Homo sapiens: one gene and its partners. The protein of the gene in region 1 interacts with the protein of each later gene in a pairwise test. Each region holds a gene or a part of one and is shown in the gene's direction. Other genes may lie near its edges.

Evidence for each region.
Region 2: the proteins of SPACA1 (region 1) and SERTM1 interact in binary tests that used the Homo sapiens proteins (3 or more experiments, as listed by UniProt).
Region 3: the proteins of SPACA1 (region 1) and CLDN19 interact in binary tests that used the Homo sapiens proteins (3 or more experiments, as listed by UniProt).

What each region holds. Positions count from the first base shown.
Region 1 is NC_000006.12:88,057,840-88,061,589, forward strand, and holds part of SPACA1 (sperm acrosome membrane-associated protein 1 precursor), read left to right. Parts: intron 1-876; coding exon 877-983; intron 984-1,613; coding exon 1,614-1,749; intron 1,750-3,750. UniProt on the Homo sapiens protein: Plays a role in acrosome formation and establishment of normal sperm morphology during spermatogenesis. Important for male fertility.
Region 2 is NC_000013.11:36,672,130-36,675,879, forward strand, and holds the start of SERTM1 (serine-rich and transmembrane domain-containing protein 1), read left to right. Parts: upstream 1-1,890; 5' UTR 1,891-2,055; intron 2,056-3,215; exon of another isoform or gene 3,216-3,298; intron 3,299-3,750.
Region 3 is NC_000001.11:42,738,851-42,742,600, reverse strand, and holds the start of CLDN19 (claudin-19), read left to right. Parts: upstream 1-2,364; 5' UTR 2,365-2,537; coding exon 2,538-2,760; intron 2,761-3,750. UniProt on the Homo sapiens protein: Forms paracellular channels: coassembles with CLDN16 into tight junction strands with cation-selective channels through the strands, conveying epithelial permeability in a process known as paracellular tight junction permeability.

The sequences.
Region 1 (3,750 bases):
ATTTTAAATTCCACTTCTTCAAACAGTTATAGTTCTGAGCAACTTTCTGATTTTGCTTCACATTTTTTCAGAGACATCTAAAATTGAACATATATTCTCTATAATACACTGGAGGCTTACTGTATATAGGGTCTATAGTTGAGGCTGTCCTGTGGCGAAATGCTTTTGATGCTTTGGTCATGTCATTTTGTCAGTAGATTGGTAGACTTTAAAATGGGAACTTTGACAGCTGTTCCATATCACATTATGCTGTTCTGAAATTTCAGTATCTCTAATGGGAGTCCCTAACCAGTACATTGGAAGCCACTAATAGATCTCATAGTTTAGTCTAACAGATCAGTAGGTCAATTACAACTTATTCTGCATAAGGAGCAGAGAGCCATGGTGTCTCCTCACCTGCTTCTTTTGGTGACTTTATCTTTGCACCTATCAGTCTTCTGTTCCTCTACACTCAAACTCCTAATTATGTTTGATAACTTCCAGCATATAGTTGATTTTTAAAACTGGAGGTTGCTTTTTAAAGTAGTATTGTGACACCTGTAATCTTAGCACTTTGGGAGGCCGAGGCAGGAGGATCACTTGAGCTCAGGAGTTTGAGACCAGGCTGGGCAACATGGTGAAACCTCCATCTCTACAAAATTTTGTTTTAATTAGCCAGGCACAGTGGCATGTGCATGTAGTCCCAGCCACTTGAGAGGCTGAGGTGGGAGGATGGCTTGAGCCCAGGAGGCAGAGATTGCAGTGAGCCAAGATCATGCCACTCTACTCCAGCCTGGGTGACAGAACCAGATCCTGTCTCAGGAAAAAAAAAAGTAATTTCGTGTATAAAGCAATTTATAATGCCCAATGGTATTTATGTGCTTAATTTTTTTTCAGGGGGTAAACCAATTTCAGAAAGTCTTGAAAGTGTTAGATTGGCATGTATTCACACATCTCCCTTAAATCGTTTCAAATATATGTGGAAACTTCTAAGACAAGACCAAGTGAGTAATGAATGGATATAACCTGGTGCTTTCTAGTGAGTGATAAAATTTGTTTCTCAGTTCTGATGGCTTTCAGAAAACTTTCTTTTTAAAAGCAGTTTGCCAAAACGAAGTTAAGAATTATACAACTTTATTATTTTGGAATTTTAAAATTTTCATTATTTACTAGGACTAAACTTTACATAAGTCTAAGGGCCAGCTATAATCAGAACTTTAAAACGTCTATTTTACACAAAGTATTCCATTTCGGAAGGAAGGTTTTCATTGGCTTATATAGGAGTTGTATAATGATAGCAGTGGCTAACATTAATTAAGGGTTTATTAAGTGCCAGACATGACACTGAGTGCTAGAGCCTTTTTTCATCCATATAACAATTCTCTGAGGTAATCACTATCATTAAACCCATTTTTACAAGTAAGTAACTAACTTGTCCACAGTCACACAGGCAGGAAGTGGTAGGGTTGGGATTTGAAGTCTGGATTGTGTGACTGAAAATCCATGTAGATCATTAATTACTCAACTAGGCTAAGAGAGACAGTAACCCTCCTTTCCTTAAGGGAAATAAATTGTTTCCTGGTAAGTGTACATGAAAAATGTTGATACTTTGTTATTTTTTTCTTTTTAAATAGCAATCCATTATACTTGTAAATGATTCAGCAATCCTAGAAGTACGCAAGGAAAGTCACCCCTTGGCTTTCGAGTGTGACACACTGGATAATAATGAAATAGTAGCAACTATTAAATTCACAGTCTATACGAGCAGTGGTAAGTGTCCAGCAATGTCTTGGTTTGCTTATATGCCAATCTTTAAAGAGCATTAAAATCACTTAGAGGCTTGTTAAAACACCAGTCTCTAGCCCTCCCCCCAGAGTTTCTGATTCAGTAGATTTGGGATGGGACTGGAACAAGAATTTCCATTTCTAACAAGTTGCCCTGTTGCTGCTGGTCCAGAGACCACACTTTGAGAACCACTGGTTTACATCATTTAGACTTTTCTAAAAGATACTACTTAATTTCTTTTTCACAAAGTAGTCACAATTTCCTCACTTTGGGAAACTGGTGTATTTCTTAAGTGTTTTCAGAGAACAGTCCTCTAACTTGAATTATATTCTTGCTTTTACTTTCATTATAAAAGTGAAAATGGATAAATGGAATTCTCATGGATGCTTATGAAAATTTTCATTCAGTAAAGTAAATAAAATTAAGAAATACGATGTCAAAGTATGACTCTTTAAAAATTATATATTTGAAACAAATGTTTTTTGATGAAGCACTAATACAGTTCTCAAAAATGTATATATCACAAAATGCAAATGTTGTCCTGAATGTCATTTTATGTATTAGAAACCATATTTTCCTTGTGAGATAGATCCATTTGCCTATATTCAGTTTAATCTATGATGGCTTACATATCCAGGTAATTATTTCCTTTTGTTCAGCTGCTCTTAACTGTTCTAATTGTTGTTATCAAATTTGTTGTTAGGGATGTGGGGACTTGGTCACAAGTTCTTTTCAGAATCCTATCAAGGCTCAGGATCCTTTTTCCAGAAAAATGTCCACATACACAAATATGCCAAAAGTTGCATGTAACTTTAAAGGAGTTTTTGGACTTCTTGAAGCTATTTCTGAACACAAAGAGCTTCTGCTGTAGTTTAAAGATACCGCACAACGTAACCATTTTATTGAAATGAAAACAGGTTAAAATATTTTAGGGTGATTTTAAAAAATAAACTACTATTTAAACTTCCTTTGATATGCTGTTTAATGAGTTTAGAAACATCTTCATGGTGAAAGCTAATAATCTTATTCCTCTATTGGGATATCAGGTGTCGTTAAAAGGATCATTTTCAATAAAGCTCTAAAAAAGGCAAGAGAATAAAAACATCATTAAACTAAAAAATATCTCAACTAGCCCTCGTTCATGATATTAAAGGTGTGTGGAGCCATTCTCAGTCTTTGTCCTACTATCTCGTCCCTGTTAGGACAATTCAGTGTGGTTAACTCCTCTCATAATTAGAAGGGAGCATGCATTTGGTAATGTATATGTTAAAGGCTGGAGCACAGACCCTAAAATGTCAGGCCTTTATTGAGACAAAGTTAACTTCTCTCTCTCATAGCAGCAGTCCAGGAATGGTGGGATAGCTCTGCCATCTCAGTACGTGCACTGATTGAATGACAAAATATTTTAAAAACACTCCAGTATCTACTAATTTCTTTAAACATGACAATTGGGTACACCACTGCAACAGACCCCTTTGGCTGATTAGAAATCAAACAAATGTTTTGGCTAGAAATGTCTACACAATATGGTACTAGCATGAAACAAATATGTAATTGAGATATTTTTAGGGTAAATATGGTTTCCCTAGTGAAAAATTCTCATCCATTCACTTAAATATCAGATTTTTCACTCCCACAATAGTTGTCTTTCATAATTAGGCATTGTTAAAAAAGATACTTTGAAGTACTCAGAATGTGACTCTATTTGGAAATAGGACTTTTTACAGATGTAATTAGTTAAGATGAGGTTGTACTAGAGCAGAGTGGGCCTTTAATCCAATATAACTGGTGCCCTCATAAGAAGAGGAATATTTGGGCATGCTTGTGCGCACACACACACACACACACACACACACAAACACAGATGGAAAGTGGGGCGCGGAATGCCAGGTGAAGACACAGAGAAACAGACATAGGGAGAAGACAGCCATGTGAAAATGGAGACAAAAATTGGAGTTATGCTACCAGAATCCAAGGAATTTCTGA
Region 2 (3,750 bases), on another chromosome or scaffold:
ACTACTTGGGAGGCTGAAGCAGGATAATTGCTTGAACCAGGGAGGTGGAGATTACAGTGAGCCGAGATCATACCACTGCACTCCAGCCTGGGCGACAGAGCAAGACTCCTCACAGAAGGATCACATCAGGCACAGAAGGATCCACATAGAAAAGATTCACACCCACCCACAATTGCCCTGGAGAAGGAAGGGGAGAGACAAAACAAACAAACAAACATGTAGAGTATGAATGAACCAGACAATAGGGTTGGGGCCTAGGAATCTTATGCACAAAGAAATTTTGAGGACCACTGTTTTGAAGGTCAACAGTTCTAACTGCCCCCCCATACACCTTAGTGTTTCAAAAAGTGAGTTGTGAGAACAACCAGTGATATTCAGAATGATTTTAGCATGGAAGACTTATGCCTTCATTTCATTGTGCATTAAAATATTAAATACAACTGGTATCTCACAAACCAATAATTTCATAGATATTATTGCTTACGATGAAGCCAAGTAAAAATCTAAGGTAAAATTTACTAAGTGCATAATGGAGCAGACTGTAGATGGATGTAAGGTAACTCATGAGAATGGCACATGAACAGGTGAAATTCAGGAAGCCAATCCAAGTGTGCCCGGAGGGAAGTGGTTCTCTGAATCTGCCCTCTTGACAACACAGCTCATTCCATCCTCCTGCATTTTACATCAGGCACAGAAGGATCCACATAAGAGAGATTCACACCCACCCACAATTGCCCTAGAGAAGGAAGGGGAGAGACAGAGAGCCTTTACTTATGTACCACGGAGCTTCAGAGTTAAGCCAGGTGCCCCTGCCTATCTCTACGTGGAGAACAATTGAACATGGGTGGAAGTAGCAGGCTCCTAGGAGCCGGGCCCTGGTGGGTGGCAGTATACGTGCATGTGTTGGTGGTCACTGAGACTTGGGTGGCCTGATTCTGTATTGTGCATGATTTGCTTTTCTGGCCACTAATAGGTCTCACGGTGAAGACAGCAGAACCAGATGGAGTAGGGGCTCAAGGAACAGGTAGCCACACCAACACTTCCCAGGAGTTCAGCCCTTTACAGGCCACAGAGCAACAATATTGTTGAATGTCAGAGTGAAACAGACCGCAGCCACCAAGTGATCGAAGTCTCTCATTTTCCAGCTGAAAAACAGGAATACAGAGAGAGAGTCTTCTGGTCAAGGTAGCAGCACTGACTGGTAACTGAAGTTGGTCGGATCAGTTAAAGCCTCCTTTTCCGGAGTTCTGTTACGATATATGACTCTCTACGCCAGTTCCCTAGTAGGGACTCATGACTGACTGTCTCCCTGGCAATGACAGAAACTCCAATCCTATTCGACTCATTTAATGATTTGGTATAGGATTCAGAGGCGCACGCGGCGAAGGCTGAGCAAGGGCTGTCTGTGGTTAAGCTCATCACAGGATGAGGCCATGCCCCACGCAACTCAGTCAGAGCTGGGCTTGCGATGATGCACCCAGAGTAGTTGTTTTGGGTGGGGGCTGCGAGGAACTCATAAAAGATGTAAGAGGAGGAGAAAGTTGGCAAGAAGTGGATGCTTTCATCTGCAGAGAAAGGCCCCTGAGCCCTAAAAAAACTGCCCTCCTCCCCACTCCCCCCTCCTCCCCCCGACACACAAAAAAGTTCACCCACTACACCTGCCTTCCCCAGATGGGCTCCCTGCGCAACGCCTCCTCGTCCTCCGAGATTTTCCAATGGTGGCGCAAGCTCCTCCCTCGCCCGAGCTGGGCGCCGTCCTAGAGCCAAGCGCCCGCTAGAGCCGAGACTAGGGGGCGGTGAGGAGTGGGACCCGCTCGCGGCCATTGGTTGTGCGGCCAGGAGGGGCGGAGGGACGACGCGCGGGCTGTGCGGGGCCGGCAGCCCGGATCCACTCCCGCTGCGCCTGCTGTCCGCCGTGCGCCCAGACTGCGCGCCGCGCCGCTGCGCCCAACATTCCCGAGGACGGCTTCGCGGGCGCGTATCGTCCAGACCGGAGCACCGCCCCACCGCTAGCGCAGGAGACCTGCCGGGGAAGTCGCGTGTCCTGACCTGCAGGTCAGTGAGGGAAACTTGCAGGGTCCCGAGCTCTGGGGGTGAACTTGCCCTACGCGGAGAGCGCCCCACTCCTTGCCTGGGGCGGCCTCGGGTCCTGGAGGCGAGCCGCCTCCCAGACTCTCCCCCGAGATCTGGGCTCCCGGAGATGTGGCTCCTTTCTGAGAAACACCCCCAAATCTATCCCTTTTGAGGTGTCCTTACTGTCCCGAGAAGCAATCGCAGCCCGGCTCTCCGAGTCTTGGGGTGACTCCACGGGCTGCAGGAGGAGCCGCGAGGGGCCCTGAGTGCAATGTCCTTGGCCCCGTGTTGACCTGCCTCGGTCCCAGACACTGGGAACCGGGAAGGTCTACCCTCGCTCTGCAAGGTGGATTCCTCCATGCAAGTGTAGACAGTTCTACACTTTGCAGAGTGTGTCTAGGTGCCTTCTGTTTGCTTTTGCCTTTGTGGTGTGTGGAGGGTCATTCTTGGGTTTGTTTTGCTCCTGTCTGATTTTCTAGGGTCATTTGCGTCCCTTCTCGGGAACGGGGACTCGCCATGCGCACACTGACAGCTGGCTTTGCACCTGCTAAGGCGCTGGAGAGTCTTTTCGCCCGTCTTAGGGTGGCCCTAAATCCGGGGAAGTTTTATGTGGCGCTGAACACTTGCGTTTCCCAGGGGCGTTTTCCCTAGCTCCCGGAAACCCAGTAGGTAACTGCGCCAGCGACCCTTCCCCTCTTCCCGGGTCTGATGAGACACTGGAATCCTGCCTTTCCCTGTCGAGGTGTGCGAATGATGGGCAAATTGCTTCAGTTCTGATTTAGGAAAGGGATATGTAATGTGCCCTCCTCCAGGGAGCAGAGGGATTCATTCACAGAAATATCTTGTTGAGGACCAGGATTGGGGCTATGCCTGCCCGCTTTCCTCCACCAGATGCCCGGGCTCCATCGGACTTGGGTTTGATCTCAGACTCTAGAGATGGGGTCTGTTTGTTAGTGTCCTTCATTTCCTCTCCCTGTTAATTTTTCTTCGGAAAATGTTCTGCTAAAGTAAGTACTTCAGTGTTCTTTGTGGTAAATGATGGGCTCCGATGTCTAGAGGACGTCTCAAAGCCATCGCATTTGGTACCGTCTGCACTACAGGTGCAAAGGGCGGGGAAACTGACAGCGTTACTGTCCTGGGGCGGACCCGCGGGACTACTCCCTAAGACGTTTCTCCTAGGTGCCTTCTCCTAGGTGCTTCCAGGATTCATTGTTCAGACAACAGCCTGTCAACAGGAAAAGAGGCACAAGTGACAGTCTTTTCTTAAAGGGTTTGTCTCTTAATGCAGTCTTGCGGAGCCCCATGCACCCTCTGAAAAAAACAATATTTAATTTGCTGAATTATACAACTAGTCTGGGTGTCTCAGCTTATTTGTGATCATGCCCATAGAGGTTCTTAAATATCTTTTTTGTAACTAAATTCTCTTCATTTTACTAAGTAGAGTAGTGTCTTTTCCCCCGCCACCACCACACTCAGAACACCGTTTTTAGTTGATCTGTAAAGCAAATTGCCTTTTGGAGGGCTTGTGAGTGAGGCTGCCTGGTCTCAGAGCCTCCCTCAGCCCATGCCCTAGTCACCTTTAAATGCTGGACATCGTAGGGCCGCCGAAGCCTCTGCCAACCTCAGAAGTAATCTGGAAATATTGAGATCCAGCACGTGGGTGGGATATTCCATTTT
Region 3 (3,750 bases), on another chromosome or scaffold:
AGAATGAGGGAAGGCCGTCAGGGTAGGAGAGAATATTTTGGTAGAACAGACTCAAAGCCTCAAATAACAAAGAGAAGGGATAAACAGAAGCACTTCAGAGGAAGAGGAGAGCACTGTTCCGGATCACGAAGAGGCTCTGGGAACACCCAGGATGGAGGAGCATGCAGGCCTCCTGCTGGCTCTGTGGCCCTGTGGACCCGTGGCTCCCTTTCTCTCTTTGGCCCTCAAATTGTCAATGGAGGGGGCCGCAGCCCATGGTCTCTGAGGCATGCTTCTGACTGGCCTCTGGGCTCCTGACCCAGGTCCCCCTGAAACCAGAATGACCCCTGGATCTTCCCTACAGAGAGAGCGCCTGCAGATGGCGGGGAAAAGGGGCCAAGGCCCAGCGTGGAGAGAAGGAGGACTTTGCCTTTGGAGGAGCATATGCGGAGCAGCTACCCAGCACCAGGCCCCTGCCCTCCCCAGACATCGCTTACTTTAACGGACCACCACAACTCCATGAAGCAAACCTCCCATTTAGAGTGAGGACCCTGAGGCACCACAGTCATTCAGGTCACCCCTGGGGAGCATCTTGTCACTGCCCGCAGCCCCCTTCAATCTGGACCTGGTGCCTCCCTCAAAAAGGGAGGAGTGTGGGAGAGAGACCACAGGGGCCAGCACCACACAGTTTCAAGCGGAAAGCCCTTCCTGCTGTTTCCTGGCTGGGGGTCTATTACCTCCCTCTGCCGTGGTCTCCTTACTGTTAGGAGGCCTGCTGCCTGCAACAGTGGCCCACATGCTTAAATTAATGCACTGGTCACAGGGTGCCCATTGCGGCCCCAGTAGGATGGAGGAGGCTCCCCTCAATCCTACTGTCTTGTCATTGTGGTAGAAGAATCTGAGCTCAGGACTTACTTCTCTGCCACTGTCCTAGACCCCATTTGGTCTTGGGACCCACAGGTCGTCCAGGAAGCAGGTCTGTGTGTGCTCGGATCCACGTGGCTCTGACCCTCCCAGCACAGAGAGCCTGAGGGTCCCAGTGTGCACCACCACAGGTCAAGCAGTGCCCACCCTTGACCCTCAGATGGCAGACCACTCCCCCATCTCTGGCCAGAGCTGCAGGCCATACCAGAGGCCTACGCCCTGGGCGGGCACACAGGGCTGCCATTGTCTGCTCAGCGCCTGGCACCCTCTCGTTTGCATAGCCACGTGAAGAATGCAAGAGCGGGCTGGGGACTTGTCCCTTCAGAGGGGGGTTGGGGCTGTGGGGGAGGAAGCCAGCAGGGGTCTGCAGCAGGACCCTGCCTTCCCCCAGTGCAGTCCAGGAAGGGTGGGTGGGCTGTTGGGGACGGAGGGGGCGGCGGGGGGCTGGCAGGAGTGGAAGCAGGGTTGTGACATTCCTTCTGCACCCACGCTGCAGTGGGGCCCACTTGAACGTGAGGGGATTGCTAATGAGGTGGAAGAGAGTTAAACATTCCCCTACTCCTGAAGACCAAGAGAGACTGGGAGAGAGAAGAGGGAGGTGGGGGTGCTCGGAGCGGGCAGCCTGAACCCCGGGAATGTGCAGAGGCCACTGCTCCGCGCCAGGCTGCTCTAGAGTTGGGGGCCAGGGCCCAGTGTTCCAGTCCCAGCAGGAGCTACTAAGCCAGCCAGCAAGGGGATTAAGGGGCTGAGCAATCCGCCTTCCTTCAGGCTGATGCCAGAAGGTTGGGGCTGTCTCCCCAGCTCCCCACCAGGCCCCTTGCTGGCCGGCAGCCAGCGCTGGCCCAGCCTCGATAGGGCCCCTTTTCTGTCCCCCTCAGATCTCAAAAAGACCCCACAGTACATATTTCCTGGTCTGGCCTCCCTGATTTTTGGCACACACAGCTCCCAGGTACCCATGACCCCTCTTCCCAACACCCCACCGCTAGCTCAGCCTCCCCACATCCAGCTTCAGAGCCCCTGCCAAAAAGTTATCCTTGACATCTAACTCTAGTTTTACCCGCTGCAAACTGGCATTCCTTTCCCTTCTGTCCTAAAGTCAAAGGGCAGAAAACCCCAAGGGTTAGATCAGCCTTGCAAGAGCAAAGTCCATCCTCCCAGGGCTGGTGTTTGGGTTAGGGATTATCCGAATTTTAGGACACCCGAATCAGGTTCCTAAAGGGGTTTCCCTGTGGGGAAAGGCCCAGAGGGCAGCTGGGTCATTCCTCTCAGCCCCTCCCTTCCCTATCCCTGCGGAACGGGGCGGGGCAGGGACACCACCTGGGCCATGGGCCGGCCCTCCGCCCCCAGGGGGCTGGGCATGAGCTTTGCTGGGGACCCTGCTCTGGCTTAGGCGGCTGCTGTGGGCGGGCCCTGGCCTTTTCCAGCCCCTGGGCCTCCCCCTGCATTCTGGAGTCCAGAGCCACTGCCTTTGCTCCAGCCGCTGCCGCCGCACCACCTCTCCTTCTCTGCCTCTGACCCTCCTTCTCGCTGCTCCCCCTGCCCAGCTGCTCCTCCCACCTGGCCATGACCAAAGCCCCTGCTGGCACCCTGGCCCAGCTCTGAGTCCTGGGACCCTCGGTCCTCTCTCCTGGGCCATGGCCAACTCAGGCCTCCAGCTCCTGGGCTACTTCTTGGCCCTGGGTGGCTGGGTGGGCATCATTGCTAGCACAGCCCTGCCACAGTGGAAGCAGTCTTCCTACGCAGGCGACGCCATCATCACTGCCGTGGGCCTCTATGAAGGGCTCTGGATGTCCTGCGCCTCCCAGAGCACTGGGCAAGTGCAGTGCAAGCTCTACGACTCGCTGCTCGCCCTGGACGGTAGGCCCCAGGCCGGCGGGGTGGGAGATGGGAGGTGGGAACAGCAGGGGAGTCTGGAGCAAGTTTTCCTCACAGTCTGCTATCTGCGCTGGGCTCCAACCTCCAGCCTCCGCTCTACAATTCCCCCACTACTGCCCTGTGCCCATTGACGGTCCAGGCCAGCCTGCTGCCCTGTGGGAGGGGAGGGCTCTAGGGTCTGGCGGCTGTGGGTCCAGATTCCTGCTCTGTCACTATAACTTTGAACTAGTCACCAAACCTCTTCCCATTGTGATGTTCTCATCTCTAAAGGGGAATACTAATACCTGTGGCACTCTGAAAGACTCAGTTAAGACCCTTCATCCACTTCTCCCCACAGTCAGTAGACAGACACACACTGTATGATGCACACCTGCTCCCTAGTCCTGCTCCCAGGCCTGTGTGCCAGCATATGGGTGCATGCACATGCATGCAAACACGCATGCACACGCACACACGTGCACATGCATGCACAGACAGGTGTGTCTGCATGCAGTCCCTCTCCTTCTGGGGTGTGGAGATGAGCCTGACAGGCACCGCCGAAGTTCTAACTCTGGGGTGGAGGTGATCCACCTGCAATCTGCCCAGGAGCCCCCAGGGACAATCTGCTCCCCATGGGAGCTGGGAGCAGAGCGGCCTTCAACCAGCCCCATTGTGCCAGTTCAGGCAGGTCAGTTCAGGCAGGTCATCTAGCCTCGCTGAGGGACCCAGGTCTCCTGAGCACCCCCCAGGGCCCAGGATGGACCCATGCACCCGTGAAGAGGCAAGCTTCCAGCTGCCATGGGCAGAGGGGAAAGTGACTGTTGTCTGAATGGCTGCTGGGGAGGGGTTGCTGCGGGGCTCAGGCTGAGTTGAGCTGGGCCTCAGATACCCCCAGCTCTTCCACCTACCAAACCTGAGGGGACCCTGGAGCTGCCCTCAGCTGCTTGGGAGGATGGGCCAAGCCCAAGAGGGAGTCCCCAGGCCAGAAAGCAA